Homo sapiens: one gene and its partners. The protein of the gene in region 6 purifies or fractionates together with the protein of the main gene of each other region. This does not show direct contact. Each region holds a gene or a part of one and is shown on either strand. Other genes may lie near its edges.

Region 1 (3,100 bases), on a different chromosome or scaffold from region 6:
TAGTCTCAAACTCCTGACCTCAGGTGATTCACCCGCCTCAGCCTCCCAGAGTGCTGGGATTACAGGTGTAAGCCACATTTAACATTTTCTAGAGAAAGGGTTCTACTATGTTGCCTAGGCTCATCTCAAACTCCTGGTCTCAAGCAATCCTCCCACCTTGGCCTCCCAAAGCATCGGTATTACAGGCCAATGAGGTCGAACTCCTGACCTCAAGCAATCCACCCACCTCGACATCCCAAAGTGCTGGGATTCCAGGCATGAGCCACCACGCCCGGCCCCGTGGCACATTTTCCTTCCGTGGCTTTTCTTCTTGAGGTCACGTGCTCCCAGGAGCACAGAGAGCTCTGGGGTCTTCCTGGACACTACCTCTGCTGTGATGAAGAAGGAGGGCCTTGGCAGGCCACCTGAGCTGCGTTTCCTGACCCTGTCCCCAGTGACAGCTGCGGCCACGATCCAAAAGAGAACATGAAACAGTGACCGTAAAAGTAAAGGCAACACTCTTTTTTTTTTTTTTCTTTTTTTACTTATTTAAAAAGGCCTTGGTGGCAGGAATATAGTGTAAAAATCATTGGAAAAACTAAAAGGCATCGATACATATCCGAATATACATTTTGTACATAAATTACATTTCCTTTAGTCTTTCTGAGTGAGGTCCTGATTCAGTACTGAGGTCTAGTAATTAAGAGGTCCCGGGAGCTGCACGTTCAGGCCGGCATAGTCCACCATGTACATTGGCCATTGCTAGAGAGAGGGACAAAGGGACTGGATTAGGACTCCAGGTGATGCGGAACAAACCCAAAATGCTTAGTTCTGCTTTTGGAAGAGCTTTCTCAGAGGCTATTTATTTATATTTTTTATTTTTTTGAGATGGAGTTTCACTCTTCTGCCCAGGCTGGAGTGCAGTGATGCAATCTCGGCTCACTGCAACCTTGGCCCCGCGGGTTCAAGCGAGTCTCCTGCCTCAGCCTCCCGAGTAGCTGGGATTATAGGCGCCCGCCACCATGCCCGGCTAATTTTTCTATTTTTAGTAGAGACGGGGTTTTGCCATGTTGGCCAGGCTGGTCTTGAACTCCTGAGCCTCAAGTGATCCGCCTGCCTCGGCCTCCCAAAGTGCTAGGATTACAGGCGTGAGCCACCACACCCAGCCTATTTATTTATTTTTGAGATGGAGTCTCGTTCTCTTGCCCAGGCTGGAGTGCAATGGGACGATCTTGGCTCACTGCAGCCTCAATCCCCTTGGGCTCAAATGATCCTCCTGCCCCAGCCTCCCAAGTAGCTGCGACCACAGGCACGTGCCACCATGCCTGGCTAATTTTTTTTTCTGAGACAGTGTTTCACTCTTGTTGCCCAGGCTGCAGTGCAATGGCGCGACCTCGGCTCATTGCAACCTCTGCCTCCCAGGTTCAAGCGATTCTCCTATCTCAGCCTTCCAAGTAGCTGGGATTACAGGCATGAGCCACTATGCCCCACTTTGCCCGGCTAATTTTGTATTTTTAGTAGAGATGGGGTTTCCCCGTGTTGGTCAGCCTGGTCTCAAACTCCTGACCTCAGGTGATCCACCCGACTTGACCTGCCAAAGTGCTGGGATTACAGGCGTGAGCCACTGCACCCGCCAGCCATGTCTTTTCATGTCTCCAGCTCTGGTGCGGCTGAAGGGTGTGGGCAGGTGGACCTCAGCCGGCCCATCTGCCCAGCGAGGATGTGAATTCCTGCCTGAGTGCCTGTGAGTACCCCACGAGAAGGATGGGCTACCTCTTGGGTGAGACAGGTGGATGCATCTATAACCCCCGAGGCCGGAAGGTCCCCACTCAAAGCCCAGTGCCTCCCCGTCCCCTGGGCCCACATCCCAGAGTAGACGGCCCTGCCAGACAGAGGGGTGAGGGCCACAGAGATGAGTGCCGGAGTCCAAATCGGTGCAACTTTACCACGAGTGAGATCTGGTTGGCCGATGCCACTGAATCCGGGTTAGAGGACGAGGAAGAGGAAGACGAGGAGGAAGAGGAGACGGAATTTCCTTCCGAGACCCGCTTTCTCTTGCGCTTGGGAATGCTGCTGTCTTTGGCTGGAAGGAGGGGAAAAGGCTGTTGACACTGGAAGCTGAGGCTTTTCTGTCTCAGCCTCCTGAGCTCCCTGGAAAAGTGCTCTGTCTTAAGGTTTCGAGTCCCCCTTTCAGGATTTCAGGCTCCTGATCCCCTGGGGGTCAGGGCCCACCTGTCCAGAGCCCACATGTCCAGCCTCCTTCCCAAAGCAAGCCCGAGGGCCCACTCTCCCCGGCCTCCTGCTCTTGCTGGCCTGCCTGCCTTTGCTAACACCGTATCCTCATCCCCATGTGTCCCTCCTCCTCCCCAGCAAGCTCACCCCTTAGGCCCTAGGTCCTCTCTCTTTCTGGTTTTTTGAGATGGAGTCTCGCTCTGTCACCCAGCCTGGAGTCCAGTGGCGCGATCTTGGCTCACTGCAACCTTTGCCTTCTGGGTTCAAGCGATTCTAGTGCCTGAGCCTCCCAAGTAGCTGGGGTTATAGGTGTCTGCCACCACGTCCAGCTAATTTTTTTGTATTTTGAGTAGAGATGGGGTTTCACCGTGTTGGGCAGGCAGCTCTTGAACTCCTGACCTCAAGTGATCCATCCACCTCGGCCTCCCAAAGTGCTGGGATTATAGGCATGAGCCATCGAACCTGGCCTATATTGTTTTTTAGGGTCTCACTCTGTTGCCCAGGCTGGAGTGCCATGGTGCAATCGTAGCTCACTGCAGCTTCCAAGTCCTGGGCTCAAGCAATCCTCCCACCTCAGGTTCCCGAGTAGCTGGGACTATACGTGCGCGCCACCATGCCTGGCTAACTTTTTGTATTTCTGCATCATTATGTTGCCCAGGCTGGTCTCCAATTCCCAACCTCAAGCAATCCTCCTGCCTCAGCTTCCCTAAATGCTGAGATTACAGGCATGAGCCACCGTGCCTGGCTCATGGCAACAATATTAATCGCATTCTCAGTTTCTGAGTATTTTCTGGGTGCTGGGCACTGTGCTAAATGCTTTGCACATTGTCTGCTGGGATCCTCCCAGCAACCCTCCAAGATCCTATTCACATTTCACTCACGAGCACCC
Region 2 (3,500 bases), on a different chromosome or scaffold from region 6:
CCTTGTCTCAAAAAAAAAAAAAAATTTACAAAAAGGGAGAGACTGACTGAGAAGACCAGTGTGAACTAGCCCTTGACTGGGCCCAGGGAAGAATGTTGGTTTGAAAGGAGAACACCCTAAGGAATATATAGCAAGTTATAGTAATGGCCCAATAACAAGCATATACCTAAACGAGCTTTTCCTAAACATTCCCGTGCCTGTTCTTCATCATGCCTTTTTCCGCAACACAGTTTGGTGGAGAACCATTGTCATATACCCGGTTCAGCCTGGCTCGGCAAGTAGATGGCGATAACAGTCATGTGGAGATGAAACTTGCTGTAGATGAAGAAGAAAATGCTGACAATAACACAAAGGCCAATGTCACAAAACCAAAAAGGTGTAGTGGAAGTATCTGCTATGGGACTATTGCTGTGATCGTCTTTTTCTTGATTGGTGAGAATGACCATTCCAAACTTCAATGTTTTCTATAACCAACTCTGGGAAGTCTGTTATGTCAGCTCAGCATATAGTTATTTTGTACCTTATTTTTTTTTTTTTTTTTTTTGGAGACAGAGGCTTACTCTCTTGCCTAGGCTAGAGTGCAGTGGCACCATGTTGGCTCACTGCAACCTCAGCCTCCCAGGTTTAAGCGATTCTCTGCCTTAGCCTCCTGAGTAGCTGGGACTATAGGCGCCCACGACCACACCTGGCTAATTTTTTTTTTTTTTTTTTTGAGTTGGAGTCTCACTCTGTGGCTCAGGCTGGAGTGCAGTGGCGTGATTTCGGCTCACTGCAATCTCCGCCTCCCAGGTTCAAGCGATTCTTCTGCCTCAGCCTCCTGAGGAGCTGGGACTACAGGCGTGCACCACCACACCTGGCTAATTTTTGTATTTTTAGTAGAGACGGGGTTTCACCATGTTGGTCAGGCTGGTCTCTAACTCCTGACCTCGTGATCTGCCCGCCTCAGCCTCCCAGAGTGCTGGGATTACAGGCATGAGCCACTTTCCCGTCCACTTTATGCCTTTTTAAGTGCCACTAGGAAGACAATCATGAGTAGATTCTATACCTGTCATTGAATTTAATCTGGTTGGAAAGAGAGACCCATGAATTATTTCAATACGACGTGCAAGTGTTTTCTTTTTATTTATGTATTTTTTTGTTTGCTCCCACTCCACCAGGAAGCAAATGCTACGCTAGAAAATATCCGCAGGACACTGGCGGTGCAGCAGCTCAGTCTCATGTTTCAAGGGGGTCTTTTGGAAAAAACTACCTATGTTTTGAATAGGTAGCTATTTGAAATAAAGCTAGTATATAATTTATTAAGTGGTTTAAAGTATACAAAACTGAGATGCATTATATACTTTAAAACTACTTAGAATTTGATGAAAACCAGTATTTTCAAGGCTTACCTGAAAATATTAACAGATTAACAGGGATAGATTACAAATGAAATTCTGAGTTCAGCTCTGGAACTTTGTCTCTTTAGGATTTATGATTGGCTACTTGGGCTATTGTAAAGGGGTAGAACCAAAAACTGAGTGTGAGAGACTGGCAGGAACCGAGTCTCCAGTGAGGGAGGAGCCAGGAGAGGACTTCCCTGCAGCACGTCGCTTATATTGGGATGACCTGAAGAGAAAGTTGTCGGAGAAACTGGACAGCACAGACTTCACCGGCACCATCAAGTGAGTGCCAGCTGCTGTGCAAGTATCTAGACAAGTAATTCAAGAATTATGATAGGCCACGGGGAAACAATAATGGTGACACTGTGGGGAATGGCTTGTTAGAGAAGACAAGACTTGTCATGTTTAGCTAAAGAGGGGAAGGGGCCTGTAAAAAACTGAAACTATACTGGTAGGGGAAAAGGTAGAACTTCTCTGGGGAGTCTCCTTTTTCTTAAAAAATTAATAGGCCCTTGATGTTTTCCCCATCTTTGTAGCTTATTGCTTGCTGTCATTCTCTGGCTCTGATTTTTCTTCTTAACCTCTTGTAACGTTGTACTAAGCTCTGCTTTGCTGACAAGGACATCAGTAGCTTTTCTCTGTTTTAGGAAGCAACACATGCCAGAAGTAGCCTTTTTCATCTCCTTGATCATGGGTAACTGCCTGCCTTAAGTCTCTAGTGCTTCTTAATTTCTGTGATACTCACCCATTAACCCCTAGGCCAGTCAGTATCCAGAGACAATGTCTCCCTCTGGTGGAGGCTGGAATACGGTGGCGTGCTCTCATCTCACCGCAGCTTCATCCCCCTACCATAGCCTCCTGAGTAGCTGGGACTATAAGCACGCAGCACCACACCCAGCTAATTTTTTTTTTTTTTTTTTTAAGAGATGGAGTCTCACCATGTCTCCCAGGCCGGTCTGTTCTTAGATTTTTATTTATTTACTTATTTATTTTGAGATGGAGTCTTACGTGTTGCCCAGGCTGGAGTGCAGTGGCACGATTTCAGCTCAGTGCAACCTCTGTCTCCCAGGTTTAAGCAATTCTCCTACCTCAGTCTCCTGAGTAGCTGAGATCACAGGCTTGTACCACCATGCTCTGCTAATTTTTGTGGGTTTTTTTTTTTTTTTTTTTTTTTTGCAGAAACGGGATTTCACCATGTTGGCCAGGCTGGTGTCTAACTCCTGACCTCAGATGATCCTCCTGTCTTGGCTCCCAAAGTGCTGGAATTACAGGATGAGGCACTGCACCTGGCCAAATTTCTATTTTATATTTATTTATTTATTTTATTTGTAATGGGCTTTCTGGCAAAAACTAGAAAGCATGCTAGACAAATTCTAAAAGAGCTGTAACACTTGTCCATAGAGTTTTACTATCTTTGCACATACATGCCTCTGTGCAAAGAATAAATTTATCTTTTCCTTTTTGCAAGCTTCCTACACTTACAGTGGTACTATAATTCTTTAGTCTTAAGTTATGGCATTTTCTACTTCATCTAGTTGATGCTTTTGTGTTTATTTACTGTACACCAGACCTTATGGTTAAAGTGAGAGTATAGTCCACCCCACAAAAATGTAAGAACTAATATGCTGAGTAAATAGAAAGAAGTATGGGAGATCGGACCAAGGAGCAGTTCTGCTTCAGGGTATTCAGATGCTTCACAAGTAGGTGAGAATTGAAACTATGCACTCTGTTCAGCACAGTATTACTATCTTAGATTTTATAGTAGATCTGGAAGCTACTCATTTCCCCTAAAACTATCCTAAGCAGATACATTGTGTTATGATGAGGCTCTTGAAGGAGTGCTTTGTAGTGGGTAAAGAAGCTTTGAAGTTACAAGATTTGGGGCAAAATTTTTTTTCTTTTGTGATATTCTGGTCAGTCTAGAAGTTTTGGGTCACAGTTCATTTATCTGAACTATGAGGGATAATATTTTGCTTTCAAAACAATTTGTTTAATCCTTGACTTAAATGTTTATTTTAAAGTAAACTTAAGTTCATTTAAAAGGCATTTTCTCCTCCAGGCTGCTGAATGAAAATTCATATGTCCCTCGTGAGGCTGGATCTCAAAAAGATGAAAATCTTG
Region 3 (3,500 bases), on a different chromosome or scaffold from region 6:
CAAAAGCCATATGCAAAAAAATAAAATACCTAGGAAAACACTGACCAAGGAGGTGAAAGATCTCCATGAGAACTACAAAACACTTATGAAACAAATCATATATGTCATAAATAAACACAAAAACATCCCAGGCTCATGGATTTGGAGACTATCATTAAAATAACCATACTGCCCATAGTAATCTGTAGATTCAACACAATTCCTATCAAATCACCAATGTCATTTTTCAGAGAACTAGGAAAAACAATTCTAAAGTCCATACAGCACCAAAAAAGGGCATGAATAGCCAAAGTAATCCTAACCAAAAAGAACAAATCCAGAGGCATCACATTACTTGACTTCAAATTATACTACAAGGCTATAGTAACTAAAATGGCATGGTACTGGTACAAAAATACGCACACAGATCAATGGACTACAATAGAGAACCCCAGAAATAAAACCACATACTTACATCCAACAGATTGATCTTTGACAAAGCTGACAAATATAAACAACAGGGAAAGGACACCCTAATTCAATAAATGGTGCTGGGAAAATTGGCTAGCCATATGCAGAAGAAACTGGATCTCTGTCTCCCAGCATATACAAAAACTACCTCAAGATAGATTAAACATTTTGGACATTGGCCTAGGCAAACAACTTATGACGAAGACCCCAAACACAAATGCAACAAAACCAAAAATAAACAAATGGGACTTAACTAAAAAGCTTCTGCACATCAAAAGATAATCAACAGGGCAAAGAGACAAACTACAGAATGAGAGAAAACATTTGCAAATTATGCCTCCGACAAAGGACTAATATCCAGAATCTACAAGACACTCAAACAACTCAACAAGAAGAAAACAAAGAACCCCATTAAAAAGTGGGCAAAGGGCCAGGCGCACTGGCTCACGCCTGTAATCCCAGCACTTTGGGAGGCCAAGGCGGGTGGCTCACAAGGTCGGGAGATCAAGACCATTCTGGCTAGCACAGTGAAACCCTGTCTCTACTAAAAATACAAAAAATTAGCCGGGCATGGTGGCAGGCACCTGTAGTCCCAGCTGCTTAGGAGGCTGAGGCAGGAGAATGGCGTGAACCTGGGAGGCGGAGCTTGCAGTGAGCCAAGATCGTGCCACTGCATTCCAGCCTGGGCGACAGAGCAAGACTCTGTCTCAAAAAAAAAAAAAGTGGGCAAAGGACATTAAGAGACATTTCTCAAAAGAAGACATACAAGCAGCCAACAAACATGAAAAAATGTTCATCACTAATCATCAGAGAAATGCAAATTAAAACCACAATGAAATATCAATCATCTTACACAAGTCTGAGTGGCTATTACTAAAAAGCTTAAAAAAAAATAGATGTTAGCATGGAGGTGAAGAAATTGTAACACATATATGGGTGGCAGCAATGTAAATTAGTTCAACCACTATGGAAAACAATATGGAGATTTCTAAAAAAAAACAAAAAACCTACCACCAAGCCCCAACTCCAACATTAGGGATTACAATTCAACATAAGATTTGGGTGGGGCACAGATCCAAACCATATCATTCCGCCCCAGCTCCTCCAAAATATCATGTTCTCACATTACAAAATACAATCATCCCTTCTCAACAGCCCCCAAAGTCTTAACTCATTCCAGCATTAACTCAAAAGTCCAAAGTCTCATCTGGGACAAGCCAAGTCCCTTCCACCTATAAGCCTATAAAATCAAAAACAAGTTAATTACTTCCAAGATACAATGGGATTATAGGCATTGGGTAAATAGTCCCATTCCAAAAGGGTAAAACCGGCCAAAAGAAAAAGGCTACGGGCCCCATGCACGTGCTAAAACCCAGCAGGGCAGTTATTAAATCTTAAAGCTCCAAAATAATCTCCTTTGACTCCATGTCTCACATCCAGGGCATATTGCAGCAAGGGGTGAGCTCCCAAGGCCTTGGGCAGTGCCACTCCTGTGACTTTGCAGGGCTCAGCCCACGCGGCTGCTGTCAAGGGCTGGCAATGAGTGGCTGCAGCTTTTCCAGGTGCATGGTGCAAGCTGTCAGCGGATCTACCATTCTGGGGTCTGAAAGATGGTGGTCTTTCTCACAGCTCCACTAGGCAGTGCCCCAGTGGGGACTCTGTTGGGGGCTCCAACCCCACATTTCCCCTCTGCACTGCCCTAGTAGAGATTTTTCCATGAGGGCTCTGCCCCTGCAGCAACCTTCTGCCTGAACATCCAGGCTTTTCCATATATCTGAAATCTAGGCTGAGGCTCCCAAGCCTCAATTCTTGGCTTTCAGCACCTGCAGGCTTAACAGCATGTGGAATCTTCCAAGGGTTTGGGCTGGCACCGTCTGAAGGCCTGAGCTATATCTGGGCCCCTTTCAGCCATGGCTGGAGCTGGAGTAACTAGGATGCAGGCAGCAGTGTCCTGAGGCTGGCAGGGCCCTGGCCCAGGAAACTGTTCTTCCCTCCTAGGTCTCTGGGCCTATGATAGAAGGAGCTGCCTTAAAGGTCGCTGAGATGCCTTGGAGCCCTTTTTCCCATTGTCTTGGCTATCAGCACTTGGCTCCTCTTTACTTATGCAAATTCATGCAGTCTGCTTGAATTACTCCCCTATAAATGGGTTTTTCTTTTCTACCACATGGTCAGACTGAAAATTTTCCAACTCTTCTGCTCTGTTTCCCTTTTAAATGTAAGTTCCAATTTTACATCATTTCTTTGTTCATGAATATGAGCACTGGCTGCTAGAGGCCAGGTCACATCTTGAACACTTTGCTGCTTAGAAGTTTCTTCCACCAGATACCCTAAATCACCTCTCTCAAGTTCAAAGTTCCACAGATCCATAGACCAGGGGTACAATGCCACCAGTCTCTTTACTAAAGCATAGCAAGAGTGGCCTTTACTCCAGTTCCCAATAAGTTCCTCATCTGCGGTCATTCTGAGCCCTCCTCAGCCTGAACTTCACTGTCTATACCACTATCAGCATTTTGGTCACAACCATTCAACAAGTCTCTAGGAGGTTTCAAACTTTCGTTCCTCTTCCTGTCTTCCTCTGAGTCCTCCAAACTGTCCCAACCTCTGCCCATTACCCCATTCCAAAGTTGCTTCCTTCTACAATTTCAGGTATCTTTATAGCAATGCCCCACTCCCAGTACCAATTTTCTGTATTAGTCCATTCTCACATTGCTATAAAGAAATACCCGGAACTGGGTAATTTTTTTTTTTTTTTTTTTGAGATGGAGTTTTGCTCTGTCACCCAGGCTGGAGTGCAGTGGTGCAATCTCGGCTCACTTCATCCTCTGCCTCCCAGGTTTAAGCAATTCTCTGCCTCAGCCTCCCAAGTAGCTGGGATTTCAGGCGCCCACCTCCACAACAGGCTAAGTTTTTTTTTTTTTGTATTTTTAGTAGAGACGGGGTTTCACCATCTTGCCCAGGCTGATCTTGAACTCCTGACCTCGTGATCCATCCACCTCGGCCTCCCAAAGTGCTGGGATTACAGGCGTGAGCCACAGTGCCCAGCCGGAACT
Region 4 (3,500 bases), on a different chromosome or scaffold from region 6:
TAATAATTTTGGAGGCTAAATCTGCTTTGCTCTTCAGGTTAATGAAAAGTAGCCTGAATGGAGATAACTTCCGAACACAGAAGCTGTCTTTTATCATTAGAACAGTGGGTCGACATTTTCCTGGACACTTACTGGCATGGGATTTTGTCAAAGAGAACTGGAATAAGCTTGTACAGAAGTAAGTTTCTCAGAGAATTATTAACTTTTAGTATTCTCAAGTTGTGCATTTGAAAAAAGCTCCCAGTGTTTTGGCTCACAGAAGTTAGGATTTGCTGTGAGAGGAAAAATACTTCCATGACAGTTTAACTGAAACATCCGGAAATTTTCACATTTGTTAACATAATTCCATAGCATGAATCATTTAACAGTAGCATTCCATCTAAGTTCTAATTAAGCCTAGCCTTGCTTGGCACCAGGTTACTTAGCTCAGCGTGGCTACAGACTATTTCATAGCAACCATTTAGCTATGCATATTGAAAAATACCTCTGTATGGCCGGGCGCGGTGGCTCACACCTTTAATCCCAGCACTTTGGGAGGCCGAGATGGGCGGATCACGAGGTCAGGAGATCGAGACCATCCTGGCTAACACGGTGAAACCCCATTTCCACTAAAAATACCAAAAATTAGCCGGGCATGGTGGCGGGTGCCTGTAGTCCCAGCTACTTGGGAGGCTGAGGCAAGAGAATGGTGTGAATCTGGGAGGCAGAACTTGCAGTGAGCCGAGATTGTGCCACTGCACTCCAGCCTAGGCAACAGGGCGAGACTCCGTCTCAAAAAAAAAAAACAAAAAGGAAAATACCTCTGCATTGCCAAGGCATCAGTTAAGAACTCACATTCAGCTAGATGCAGATGTAGGTTTTTTGCTTCTTTCTCTCTTTTAAATCAATAATGGCATTTCTGGGTGTACAGTGTGATCTTCGACAATGTTAAGCGGATTAATTGTCTGCATGTTCTGAACTCTTCCCTTTTTCTGCCCACCTTTCCTTCCCACCGACAATAAGTATGCATAGGGCTACCCCGGTTTCCTCAGTTGCAGTTCCGGGAGGAGGATTCCACTCTGGCTTTGGCATTAAAGACTTTTCCTTGCACTCAGGAACAACGCTTTACCAGCAGCTGCCTAATCTTTTTGCTCTTGTTTTTGTGTTTCTTCAGGTTCCCTCTGGGGTCCTATACCATACAAAATATTGTTGCTGGATCAACTTACCTGTTTTCAACAAAGACACATTTATCTGAGGTTGGTTTTATAAAATGATAATACAGAGACTGGGCAACCCTCCGCACACCCGGACCAGGCTGCTCAGTTTTAGTGAGATGGTGGATTTTCATGCTAATTCCTTCTCTTATCTCTGTCTTCCTTTATCAGTACTAATGATTCTGCATTGTGATTACTTCTAGAGGGTGGCATATATGATAATGAGGAAAAAATCTGATTCCATTCTCTTCCCTTGTCTCCCTAATACAAATAATTTAAGTGGTCATAAAATTGTTTGGAAGAATTGCATTCTTGGGGTGAATTCATAGCACCAAGCCTTTGGACTCTACTTTATTTATTGTTACTTAAACATCTCCTTGGTTCCATTTTAAGTTAGAAAAATGTATCTGTGTGGGAGTAAAAAGATTTCCTTTTTAAAATCATTTCAGATATCACCATACTTGATTGGGAACTCCATGTAGATACCTTGAATATTAAAGTACTTCTTTCTACTGCTTTCAAGATAGCAGCACAGCCATCACTAAGTTAAAGCTTATTTTAAAAGCTGGGGTTACCTGAGGTTTATCGTCCTTTTCTTCTTTTGAAATTCTTCTGTGTGAAACTTACAGGTTCAGGCATTCTTTGAAAATCAGTCAGAGGCAACCTTCCGGCTTCGTTGTGTCCAGGAGGCTTTGGAAGTCATTCAGTTGAATATCCAGTGGATGGAGAAGAACCTCAAAAGTCTCACATGGTGGCTGTAGCATGCACAACCGCACCTCATTTTGTTGCCCATTCAGAGAGCTTGTAAGCTTGGGCTCTGCCGCTTTTGCAAAAGCCAAGGTAAAGCCAGGATCGCTGCCAAGTTGTTTGCACTCTTTGGAGTTCTAGTTAGCTCAGGGCCTGACTGTATTTTTCATCCATCTTTTCTGAAGTGTCTTTGGGCAGTATGTAGTTATTTATTACAAAATTATATTCACCTAAATGCCAACCATCTACAAAAACAATGAGTAATTTTTCTACTTTGAAGATACACAGATGGGGACAAAAACCCTGTTTTGGAATTCTGTTCTATTCCTCAGTATCCAGAAAGTTACTGACACAGTAAAACAAGGAAAGTTCTACCCTAAGAGCCGCCATCACTTCAGGCCGCTGGTTTGTCAGCCATCTGTTGCTTCTTATTGATAGATGGCATTGGAATGTGGTACAAAGTTAGCTCTGAAGAATATGGTAACGAAGACAATAAAGCATGCACTGTAAGAACTGACCTCAGGTGTGCAGATCTACTTTGATTTGGGGTTTTGATTAATTCTTTATTTTTCTGAAAAAAAGTTTAAATAATGTCTGTAACTATTGTGTTTTTTTCCTGCCGAATAGCCAGGTGCTACAGATTTTTAAAATTTTTGTTGTATTGAAAAGCTAAACAAGGCCAAAAGGTTAAATTTTTTGAATATTTAAGACTTTCTTTTTCATCTTTTATAGCGTTACCATAGGAAACTGTTCCAAACTGAGTTAGCTTTAATTATAATTATTTTATTCATAAATGGTGATAGTCCCCAGATCTGTACACCTTTATCACTCCCTGCCGTAGATATACTTTAGGTTAGTATTTCTACATTCGTGGCAAGCATTTTGGTAACACCAGTGGTTTTCATTGTGACTTTTATCACTATCACTAAGAATGCAATTTAAGTTGCCTTTTGGCATCATAGATCATAGAAACTTTCTCTCTGAATCATACCCATGTGTGAATTTTCATTTTATATGATAGTGTAGCATATTAGAAGCATATTTTAAAACAGAGCCTTTGAGAAATTGAAAAACAATTATTTGAAGTTCACCATAGTACCTTAAAGGAACAAAGAGAATGTGGGATAGGAGTAACTTGAATTCGTGTTTAGTATGGTGGGCTTTGAATTTTTTTCACTATCAAAAATAGTGCTTTTGTTTAGTTAAAAATTGTAGTTTTTCTTTTTTTGTGTGTCCAAACTAACATAAAAGGAGTGGTCAAAGAAGGAAAGAAGAAAAATGAGGGAGGATGTCCGAAACTGTATGGCATTTTACTCCTTCTGAAAGAGAAATACTGTACTTGAATTTTTGAGCTATGCAGACTTATACCTAGATTGTTGTGTTTCTTTGATTCTTAGGAGAAAAGCTTTCTTCCTAATAATTCTTGAGAACTTTATATTTTGTTTGAAAACAGTTTCTATGTACATAAAAAGGGTATTTACCCATTTGTGAGCACTTAAAACACTCCACAGAGTCAGACAGTGGGAAAGGTCACCCTTTTTTTATTCGGCAGGTATCAAG
Region 5 (3,500 bases), on a different chromosome or scaffold from region 6:
GGAACACACACCTGCACGTGCACCTGAGCAAGTGTATGCAGGCACACACACCAGTCTGGAGTGTCAGCTTCCTTCTCTCTGCCCTGTTCCTGGTCGATTCCTTACTACATTTCCGACTTTGCAGGAAAGGGGTTCCCTTGCATTCCTTTCCAGAACTAGGCCTATTGGCCACTTTCTCCAAATTGCACTCTCCCCTCTGCAGCCCCCCACACCTCCGCAGAGCCACAGTGTTTGCCAACGGGTCTCTGCTGCTGACCCAGGTCCGGCCACGCAATGCAGGGATCTACCGCTGCATTGGCCAGGGGCAGAGGGGCCCACCCATCATCCTGGAAGCCACACTTCACCTAGCAGGTGAGTCTCTGGGTCTGGGGTGCTGATGTGGGAGGCTGCCTTTAACATTTTTGGCACATAGAGATTTAGGCTTCTGTTTTTACTCAGCCGCTTGGAGGGCAGGGGAAGAAAAGGATGCTGGGAGTAGGAAGAGGATATGCAGAGGGCTGCAGGGGAGGGTTTGTGCTGGGAAAGGGCCTAGGCTTGCTGTGGGAGAACATCATGTACCCTGAGACCCACAATAATTGGGCCATTCCTCCTACTTATGTCCTTGCAGAGATTGAAGACATGCCGCTATTTGAGCCACGGGTGTTTACAGCTGGCAGCGAGGAGCGTGTGACCTGCCTTCCCCCCAAGGGTCTGCCAGAGCCCAGCGTGTGGTGGGAGCACGCGGGAGTCCGGCTGCCCACCCATGGCAGGGTCTACCAGAAGGGCCACGAGCTGGTGTTGGCCAATATTGCTGAAAGTGATGCTGGTGTCTACACCTGCCACGCGGCCAACCTGGCTGGTCAGCGGAGACAGGATGTCAACATCACTGTGGCCAGTGAGCACCTTTGCCCTGAAGGTCAAGGAGAGGTGGAGGGGAACACAGGTCTGGGTGTGATGGACAGAGGCTTCCCTGGTACTCACCTGAGGTCCTCTCAGTTCTGGGCCCTGCAGGCTTGGGAATCAGTTCACTACTGGGAGTCGGTGTAGACAGTAGAGAGCCAGGCACAGGGGTTAGGGTGGGTGCTCCAGAGGAAATAGTGACAGCCCTCACAGAAAAATGGTCCTCTGGGTACAGAGGAAAGAGCAATAGACTAGGAATCTAGAGACCTGGGTCCCACTATGCTCCCAATGCACAGAGTGACGATGGTAGCAAATCACCCACCTTACTGGGGTTCAGTCTCCTCATCCATAAAATGGAGCCAGTAATCTACTACCTACCCCACAAGGTGGTTGGAAAGGTCAAATGAAGTAGATGAAAATGATTTTTCTTTTTTTCTTTTTTGGGAGGTAATAGTGGACAAAATTATAGGTGATTTTTAATTTGTTTTAGTTTGTTATGCTTTCCAAATTTCTTTACTAAACATATTACTTATGAAAAAAAAGAGGGGGAGAAAAGCAAGACATATGACTGAAAGTACACATGATAAACCCTTTATATCAGGCTGGGCGCGGTGGCTCATGCCTGTAATCCCAGCACTTTGGGAGGCCGAGCCGGGCGGATCACAAGGTCAGGAGTTGGAGACCAGCCTGACCAACATGGTGAAACCCCATCTCTACTAAAAATACAAAAATTAGCTGGGCGTGGTGGGGCACACCTGTAATCCCAGCTACTCAGGAGGCTGAGGGAGGAAAATTGCTTGAACCCAGGAGGCAGAGGTTGCAATGAGCTGAGATCGCACCGTTGCTCTTCAGCCCGGGCAACAGAGTGAGACTCCATCTCAAAACAAAACAAAACAAACCTTATATCCTCACTACAGGCATAGGGATTTATTTGTTTACTTATTTCTTTATACCATGCCTTGTTCCAAACCTTTTGTGGTAGTTTAAAAGGATACACAATAAAAATTACAATATGCACACAGAGACACACATACATACAAACTATTTTGCAATCTGCTTCTTCCACTTACCTTTATGTTACTATTATCTTTCCGAGTGGGTAACTTTGCAAAAAGATTTGAATATGAAAGTGGCTTTGTAAATGTGAAGTTGTGATGCTAGTATTCCCATTAGGATACTGAAATCTTAGAAGACATGCACCTATACTCAGGCCGTGATTTGGGTGGGAATCACAGCACATGTGTAACGAGTGCTCAGGACACTCACAGTGCAGGTGCAAAGGCAAGATGCACAGTCAAGCCTTCCTCCAGTTGAGGTCTGAGAATCACCTGCTTTCATTAGGGATACTTTTTCTTCTTTTGTTTGAGACGGAGTCTCACTCTGTCACCCAGGCTGGAGTGTAGTGGTGTGATCTTGGCTCACTGCAACCTGCGCCTCCCAGGTTCAAGTGATTCTCGTGCCTCAGCCTCCCAAGTAGCTGGGTTTAAAGGTGTGTGCCACCACACCTGGCTAATTTTTGTATTTTTAGTAGAGGCGATGTTTTACCATGTTGGCCAGGCTAGTCTCAAACTCTTGACCTCAAGTGATCCACCTGCCTCGGCCTCCTAAAGTGCTGGGATTATGGGTGTGAGCTGCCATGCCCGGCCTCATTAGGGATACTTTTTAAAACACAGGCCAGGCGTGGTGGTTCACACCTATAATCCCAGTGCTTTGGGAGGCCGAGATAGGAAGATCTCTTGAGCCCAGGAGTTTGAGACCAGGCTGGACAAAATAGTGAGACCTTGTGTCTACAGAAATTTAAAAAGTTAGCTGGGCGCGGTGGCTCACGCTTGTAATCCCAGCACTTTGGGAGGCCGAGGTGGGTGGATCACGAGGTCAGGAGTTCGAGATCAGCCTGACCAACATGGTGAAACCCCGTCTCTACTAAAAATACAAAAATTAGCTGGGCATGTTGGCACTCACCTGTAATCCCAGCTACTTGGGAGGCTGGGGCAGGAGAATTGCTTGAATCCAGGAGGCAGAGGTTGCAGTGAGTCGAGATCGTGCCATTGCACTCCAGCCTGGGTGACAGAGCGAGACTTTGTCTCAGGAAAAAAAAAAAAAAAAATTTAGCCAGGTATGGTGATGCACACCTATAATCCCAACTATTTGGGAGGCTGAGGCTGGAGGATCATTTGAGCTCGGGAGCTGGAGGTTCCAGTGAGCTATGATCACACTACTGTACTGGAGCCTGGATGACAGCAAGACCCTGTCTCCAAAAAAATGTCTAAGACATTGCTGGAGCCTTGAAAAAAAGAAAAAAAATGCAGAATTCGGGGCCCCACTCCACAGCTTCCAACCCAGGCTCTAGGGGTGGGACCCAGGTAGATGTGTATTTAACAAGTGCTCTGGGTGATACTTCATGTGTGTTCAAGTTGGGGAACTCTGGCTTTGATCAGTCATTCCACAGATGCTGACTGAGGCTGACACTGAGCCATGCCAGTGTCCCTTGCTGTGCTCTGAGAAGGAGGCCTGTGGCATTTGAGAGTGTGTGATGCAAACAGGGCCAGATCAGGTGCTGGGTGTTAGAGGGTAGAGCCCAGAAGACGGAGAGCTCTGGGAATGCATTCAGTCAACAGAGA
Region 6 (3,500 bases):
ATACAGAGGCTCTGGAAGCCTCCCTTCTGAATGCTTAAAGTTGGGTCCTGGTGTGGAAACAGAACTGGTTAGAGTAGCCTTACGGAACATACATGAGAGAACAAGACACAAAGCACCTTTGGGTCAATTATCGTATCTGATACTTCTTATACCTGTTGCAAGATATGGAGTTATGATTAGGTCATTCTTCAGTTTATTAACTGAGACCCAGGAGAGATAATTCCAAAGTCATTATCAGGATTAAACAAGTCTTTTGACAGACTGATGCCTTTTCCATCATAAACTCTACAAACTGAAGAGCAACAGTGTTCCAGAGAACAGTGTGACCTTCCTGTAGTTTTGACTCTAAGCCTTCAGTCTAAACTCTGGATACTTCCTCTTTCCTTTTGGGAAAATTGATCTGGCACTATTTGATCCCTACCTTGAAAGGGTGCTCAAGAAAAACATAAAATATTTATGAAGTGCTTTGTTTCATGGGAAGCAATGTTCCAGGATGCAAAACTTCTGTATGCTCTGAGCAGCAGTGTTGGAAACGTACTTCAGCTTACCATACATTGTATCAGCTCTTCCAAGGTTGCACATTTCACTCCTGACTGCCCATGTGTGAAAATCTAAGAATGTCACACATCCCTTTGCCACCTTTCATTAACCATGTTTGTTCCTGAGAATGGTGCGACACATTATTAAAATGTCCAAAAAGGGAAATAAAGGAGTCGGGGGTGAGAAGAAGAGGAGGAGGTGGTAGCAGGGAGGTGAGTAGGAACTGACAACCCCTGAGGAGCCCAAGCTGTTAACCTGCAGGGTATGGGCATCCTCTGCCATTCACCCTGCAAGGTGAAACTGAGACTCACTGGCCAGATCTTGCAAGAAACTCTGCCAAGGTCTGCCATGGCCAAGCCTTTTCAGTGACAAGAGACGGTGGGGTGCAGAGCTGTTCATTTGGCATCCTTCACCAACACTAAGGTCACTGATAAAATATTAAGCTGATCTTATATCTGTGGCTTCATGAAGATGATCAGGGATGGAGGGAAGCCAGGGAAGGGGCAGTGTCGGGTGCATGAAGAGGAGCAAAGCCTCCTGGAAGCACACACACGGAGGCTCACAATAGCCACAGTTGCCACAGGGAAGCAGCCAGCTTGTGTTTACTTTCAACTCAAAGTGTTTTCTGTTGTATATCCATGTCATCACCTCTTATTTATCAGGAAGTGACACAAAGTAACAGGCTTCACAATGCCATCAATGTCATTTTGACAGCATTCATGTCACAATACACAATCATGTACTGTAATTATACAAAATCCAAAGAATAAAATGTTACTAGTTACACTCGTTAAAATGAAACTGACAACCAAAAGAATAACAAAACAAAAAGAAATCTCTGTCAGAATCCATAGAGACATTTGACAATATTACAAAAAAAAGTAGTCAAATAATTGTCCCAGCATGCTGCAGTTCATTGCCATAACTTCATAAATTCCCAGCTCTTTGGGGGAAAGAAAGTGCGTTTTCACAGCCTATATAGTTCTTAAAGAAATAGCTCTCACATGTATGCAGGTCAACAGAACAAGGAATGCAAAGTCTAGGCACCACGATTGCTCAGACAGCAACAGAGTTCAAAGAGTCCAACTTGACACTCTTCTGAACCAGATGTGGTTTCTTGAGAAAGAACTTGGACAGTAACATTAGTCCAAAAGGGCCAAGGAAGAAACACCAACTGTTAATAAGGAAGAAAACCATCAAGAACTAGAACAGTTAAGACAATTTTTTTTCTACTCTACTTTGAAGCTGAATTATAGCTTGAATAGTAAAAGATTACACAGTTGATCTGTGGGTAGAACCCCTCTCTTCCCTGACCAACCTCCCCAATCCAGATCCGGTAATGTTGGAGTACAGATAGTGCTGGCTCAATTTCTTTGAAGTAGAATGACCATTTCTTCATGTGTGGCCATGCCTCCTTTTAATAATGAGGTATAATCTGATGCTAACAATGCCTGTTCCTTCCTGGGTTATGGGGCTGATGAACGGTGTAGGCAGAAAACAATTCAACTTTCTGATAAGAATCACACACACACAAAAATTATTGCACTGAAAAACAAACACTTAAAAATAAAAAACTCAGCCCAACCAGCAAAGGGCCAACTAAACTCTTCGGAAGTGCTGTACTTCCTGCCCTTTGGAGAGCGTCTTGACCTTCCTGGTGTTCTGTTGAATTTGGTCCATTATTAAATGTCCCGAAGTGAAAGAGTCCAAAAGGACACTGTAGGCTCTTTAAGGCTAAGTCTTCCCGGTGCTTCTGTGAGATAAATTATCTCCTTGGCCACATATTACAAAGCAGGGCCTCTGTTTAGAAAAATGACCATCAGGGCCCACTAAAACAATCTGGAAGCAAGGGAGGATGGGCGCACATCATGTCCTCTCCTGTGAATGAGACAAAGAAAGACAGTAAGCAGCCTGGTGTCACAGCAATCTTCTATTGCTCCACCACTGCTCTCACTATGCTCAGTCTCACAACCCATGCAGATGTGGGTTGATCTGTGCATCTTTCTCTGTGTGCTGCCTCCTTTCTGTGGGTCTGAATGTCTTTCCCTCTCCCAGCAAATTTGTTTCTCTCTGTCTTTCTTTATTTTTTATCCTTCCTGCTCCATTGTGCGCTCTGTCTCTCTTGATGGATGTAGAGGTGCAGTGCTAATCCTATCCTTCCCACTGGTCCATATGCTTCCCAGACTTTCATGATTCTCCCATCATGCACCACTGTCATCTCCCTACCCTGTCATTGGCTCCTCTTCCCCCAGTATAGTCAGACACTCTACAGTCTGTTTACTGAACTAAATGGGCAGATTACTGTTACCTCAGCCAAGTTTACTTACACCTCCAAAATCTGATCTCGTAGTCAAAACTGGAGTACAGGACGTTGAATATGTTACAAGTGTCTTCATGAAGCTCTCAAGTAAGGGCTCACATAATGGGGGAGACCAAGGTATTTTCAGACTCTGCTATCCTGAGACTCTATTGTCACTGTTGTTTTTGGTTTTAGGAGTGTCCAATCCAGCTCATGTCTTTTTGTAACCCCGTATACAGCCCTTGTAATCAATAAAATATTTGCACAAGATATCTAGATAGATTTGGATGGTAGTATCCTGATATTACAGGCACAGATCCAATAACAGAATAATTTAGGGTTCTGGGTAGAGGGAATGGAGGTAAAGTCATCATGATGTGCAGAAGCTCCTGTTTGTTGCCAACACCAACCAAGGTGCATTGAAACTCAAAGATCTGCTACAGTACTTGTTTCTCCCTGTGACCACCCATGTGAGGCCAGGAGCTGGGAAGAAATACTCATGTGAAGTCAGAGTCAATACAAATGGCTACTGCTGTCTTTTGTCCCATCCATCACATCCCCCTCTAATAGTTCTAAGACTGAGCACTCGTGGAGAGCTCTTCTCCACTTACTGCTCCGGATTCTGAACTAGGACTTGCTAACATTCTCGTATATGACATCA
Region 7 (3,500 bases), on a different chromosome or scaffold from region 6:
TACCATAATCACAATCAGGAAGGCAAAGAAGCTTTAGCAGGCAGGCTTGAAGATGGGAGTTTTCATGGCTTGACCATGAATGATCTCAAGATGATTTCATAAGATTAAAAGCCATCACGAAAATACTGAAAGCAACAGGTAATAATCTGGATTCAGTCTGTAGTTGCTCATGAACCACGCGTTTTAATAAAAGGAACATTAAGTAAATTGTAGGTATAAAAGAATCAGTGCATATCTGTTAATGTCATTGACAATAAAAATATATTATCTTCTCAGCTCAGCTCTAAATTAACAAAACACCTATTTTTTTTTTCCCACTCCTCATTTTAGTGGTTCTCAAACATTGGTGTGCTCAGAATCTCCTGAGGTGCCTATTGAACAATGACATCCCAAAGCCCCACCCCTAAGATTTGATTCAGGTTGTCTGAAACCAGGCGCCATGACCCAGATGGTCCATGGATCATACTTTGAGAAACACTGATATCCCCTTAATACATAACAAAACATTGTTTACTGTTTATGACTTCATGGTAAAGTTTTAAGCTGAATAAAACATTCAAACAATTATTAGAACACAAATAGGTACATTAAATAAGGATATAAGCCATTACGCAATTGCATTTTCCTTTTAAAAGTGGCATCATAGACACAATGACTTACATAAAAATTTTAAAATCAATTTTGTTTTAATCCAAGGCACCTGTAAAACACTTGCTGGTGTGAGAGAAGTGAACAAATTCAATTATACAAAATAGTACAGAAATGAAAGAATCCTGGCAGTGATTGATTTTTCCACAGAGCAAACCTTTTTGTTCAGAAATGAGCTCCTTAAAGTCAATGATTTTGAGAAAAACCACACTTCAAATATGATACACATCATGTGAACTACTTTGCTGAGTGATTTTCAAGCAAAGTATATCACTAAGTATAAAAGATAAAAGGCTCATGCTCATGCTGTTTCATAATAGCCATCTCCATTTGTAGTAAGAATAATCAGAATGATTCCCCTTGAATTTCAGCCTGAAAAATGTATACTGCATAGATCTGGTATTCCTTTAATGCACAGGCACATATGACCATGGACTTTATAATACTGGATTTGGCAGCCTTTTATCTCAAGAGGATTTCTCAAGTTTCATAGTTTACAACTTAAATATTCCTCTGAAGGTATTTAATTTTTTTTCATGGAGCAAGAGTAAATTCTGTGATGATGAAGCCTCTGAAACATGAATTTCAAAATGTTAACACTACAAAAGAAAAATGCTAGAGAAGCATTTTCTGTGTTGAAATGACTGAAGTAAAGTGAGTTATCACTGGCATATTCTCTTTCAGTGTTCTAGGATAAATATCAACATAAAAAGCAACGCCAGACTGTTTGCACACACAGCACTCGTTTGGTATTGCTATAATACAGAGTTCTTCAGAAAGTCTTTATATATAGATTTTAGGTCGTTAGCCCAATCTGTAAATGACATTTGAGAGCAAACCTAGGGAGGCTTGGAATAATTCAACAGTACTATTTTATAAGATAGTATTGTTTGGAATTCTATGGCAAATGAAAGACAACCATTTTAGCTAAAAGAAGTAAAAGAGTATTTTGAAGGCAGCAAAAATCAGTATAAATCAGCTGTGAACAGAATTAAATTTGCATCTTAAAATGTCATTTACAGACTGTTTCTGTAATACCTAGAAGTATGCACAAAGACTATAAAAACTCCTTCCAGTCTGACATTTCAAGGTTAAGTTTACTAACAAGTGCTTCACAATGTCCTTAGTTCTGGCACTAAAAGGAAACAATTAGAAGTATTCACTGTTTTTCAAATTTTGCCTTCAAGAATCTTAAAACTGCTTCTACTACAGCCTCCTTGATTTAAAAGAGTATGCAAATGGTCACTAACCCCAGCCAGCATGAAGTAACTAATGTAAACCAGAATGTAGTGGCAGGTTTTGTGAATTTAAATCCTCAGATCATGCAATTTGAGCTGAATTTACATGCTGTAGTAAAGGGAGAAATAAATTCCTTAAGTTACAAATATAAATATAAAAATTATTTTCATAATATTGACCTGACCCCATTGGAATGAAGACATTCAAGAATATGGGCAATCATGAATGAATACATTACCAGGCAAAATACCTATAAAAGCCATTCTCAGAGGAATGTTTCCACCCACAAGGTTTTTTAGGCAAAAAGCAGCTATTAATTTTCCTCTAAAATTTCCTTTAAAAGTGAAATATATCATTGATAAATAGAGGAAAAAAAAATTTCACTTAACATTTTGAAGTCTATTACCAGATCCTTAAAGCTCTCAGACAAAATATTCTTTGATTTCAAAGGAAGTTGCATTAAGATGAAAGGACTGCAGGCCCAGGCCTTTGATTAGGAAGTCTGACCTCTAAAAAAGACTTTGGTTACAAAATAAACCTGATGGGACTTCTTAATTAGACCTCATATTCTGGGAGGCATGAGGGCAAGTGTGTTTACGTTATACAGGGAAACCTGCAATATTGGAGACTTAGGGGGTAACATTCATATCCAGGGGTTGCCCCCACTTTATTTACCCTCTTACTGGTCAATATTCTGCTCAGAGGCTGCATCATACTGACCAGAAATTCACTGAAATTTAGACAGATTTACATACTGTGAACAAATTAAAATGTGGTTGTCTTTGCTTTAAGGTTTATTCTTAACTGCAAATCAATGTTTAAACAGTTATTTTATTAAGAAAATTAATAATTTAGACTATGAAGCAATTTAAATACTTAAATTCCCTCAAAACGACATCATTTTGTACACAAATAGATGAAGTACACAGGAAAATGGTAGTCAAAAGAATTTTTTGGCAGCTGCTTCTTGCTGAGACCTAATGAAAAAAAGAAACAAACACTTAAAGAAGTTCTATACGCTTAACTTTGGAAAGAAACAGGACTATTTAAAATTAAAATATCAATGCCTTTTGAAGTATACAACGCATTAAGATAAACATATATTCTACACGTGCACTTTATGTGAACTGAAATGAACAGAAATCACAATAAACTTAATTTTATAGGTGGTGAAAATTGTATTATGAACATAGATAACTTAGTTGAATATTTCTAATTAAACAGATGCAGAAAAATATTGGGTCACATTTTATCAAGAGACTTACCTATACATGATATAACCAATGAATAATACAGTTTGCACCACAACAAATATAATGAAGTGGACCGTAGACAAACATGATGGAAATGGTGGTAGTTCTGGGCATTTCGGCTTTTCATTTGATGGCTGTAAGGCAAATGACTTTCTATTACAGTTAGTCAAAATAGCAGTTTGGAAAAAGAAATAAATGTGAAATCTTTATAAAACTGTTTGCTATATAAACAAGTATTTTCATTTTTTCATCCCCCAGAAAACCTTCTATCCCCTTAACTTTTACTGACAACTGTTTTTGAAGGAGTAGTTGACACTGGAAGGCCTCCACCTTTTTACTACCCAGTCACTAACTCACTGC

What was found.
Region 1: the proteins of PTPRO (region 6) and GTF2IRD1 purify together in Homo sapiens (affinity purification with mass spectrometry; one large-scale study listed by BioGRID and IntAct). This does not show direct contact.
Region 2: the proteins of PTPRO (region 6) and TFRC purify together in Homo sapiens (affinity purification with mass spectrometry; 2 studies listed by BioGRID and IntAct, with this or other methods). This does not show direct contact.
Region 3: the proteins of PTPRO (region 6) and DNAJC3 purify together in Homo sapiens (affinity purification with mass spectrometry; 2 studies listed by BioGRID and IntAct, with this or other methods). This does not show direct contact.
Region 4: the proteins of PTPRO (region 6) and LNPEP purify together in Homo sapiens (affinity purification with mass spectrometry, with the first as the bait; one large-scale study listed by BioGRID). This does not show direct contact.
Region 5: the proteins of PTPRO (region 6) and PTK7 purify together in Homo sapiens (affinity purification with mass spectrometry; 2 studies listed by BioGRID and IntAct, with this or other methods). This does not show direct contact.
Region 7: the proteins of PTPRO (region 6) and LMAN1 purify together in Homo sapiens (affinity purification with mass spectrometry, with the first as the bait; 2 studies listed by BioGRID). This does not show direct contact.

What each region holds. Positions count from the first base shown.
Region 1 is NC_000007.14:74,600,006-74,603,105, reverse strand, and holds the end of GTF2IRD1 (general transcription factor II-I repeat domain-containing protein 1), read right to left. Parts: intron 2,063-3,100; coding exon 1,926-2,062; coding exon of another isoform or gene 1,809-1,925; exon of another isoform or gene 812-1,808; intron 742-811; coding exon 673-741; 3' UTR 501-672; downstream 1-500. UniProt on the Homo sapiens protein: May be a transcription regulator involved in cell-cycle progression and skeletal muscle differentiation. May repress GTF2I transcriptional functions, by preventing its nuclear residency, or by inhibiting its transcriptional activation.
Region 2 is NC_000003.12:196,072,091-196,075,590, reverse strand, and holds part of TFRC (transferrin receptor protein 1), read left to right. Parts: intron 1-230; coding exon 231-432; intron 433-1,465; coding exon 1,466-1,661; intron 1,662-2,712; exon of another isoform or gene 2,713-2,771; intron 2,772-3,438; coding exon 3,439-3,500. UniProt on the Homo sapiens protein: Cellular uptake of iron occurs via receptor-mediated endocytosis of ligand-occupied transferrin receptor into specialized endosomes. Endosomal acidification leads to iron release.
Region 3 is NC_000013.11:95,683,639-95,687,138, reverse strand, and holds part of DNAJC3 (dnaJ homolog subfamily C member 3 precursor), read right to left. Parts: intron 1-3,500. UniProt on the Homo sapiens protein: Involved in the unfolded protein response (UPR) during endoplasmic reticulum (ER) stress.
Region 4 is NC_000005.10:97,026,580-97,030,079, forward strand, and holds part of LNPEP (leucyl-cystinyl aminopeptidase), read left to right. Parts: intron 1-37; coding exon 38-178; intron 179-1,153; coding exon 1,154-1,235; intron 1,236-1,822; coding exon 1,823-1,954; 3' UTR 1,955-3,500. UniProt on the Homo sapiens protein: Release of an N-terminal amino acid, cleaves before cysteine, leucine as well as other amino acids. Degrades peptide hormones such as oxytocin, vasopressin and angiotensin III, and plays a role in maintaining homeostasis during pregnancy.
Region 5 is NC_000006.12:43,131,814-43,135,313, forward strand, and holds part of PTK7 (inactive tyrosine-protein kinase 7 isoform a precursor), read left to right. Parts: intron 1-202; coding exon 203-351; intron 352-607; coding exon 608-874; intron 875-3,500. UniProt on the Homo sapiens protein: Inactive tyrosine kinase involved in Wnt signaling pathway. Component of both the non-canonical (also known as the Wnt/planar cell polarity signaling) and the canonical Wnt signaling pathway.
Region 6 is NC_000012.12:15,595,008-15,598,507, reverse strand, and holds the end of PTPRO (receptor-type tyrosine-protein phosphatase O isoform a precursor), read right to left. Parts: coding exon 3,467-3,500; 3' UTR 3,451-3,466; exon of another isoform or gene 2,419-3,450; 3' UTR 177-2,418; downstream 1-176.
Region 7 is NC_000018.10:59,328,266-59,331,765, forward strand, and holds part of LMAN1 (protein ERGIC-53 precursor), read right to left. Parts: intron 3,275-3,500; coding exon 3,153-3,274; intron 2,865-3,152; coding exon 2,828-2,864; 3' UTR 1-2,827. UniProt on the Homo sapiens protein: Mannose-specific lectin. May recognize sugar residues of glycoproteins, glycolipids, or glycosylphosphatidyl inositol anchors and may be involved in the sorting or recycling of proteins, lipids, or both.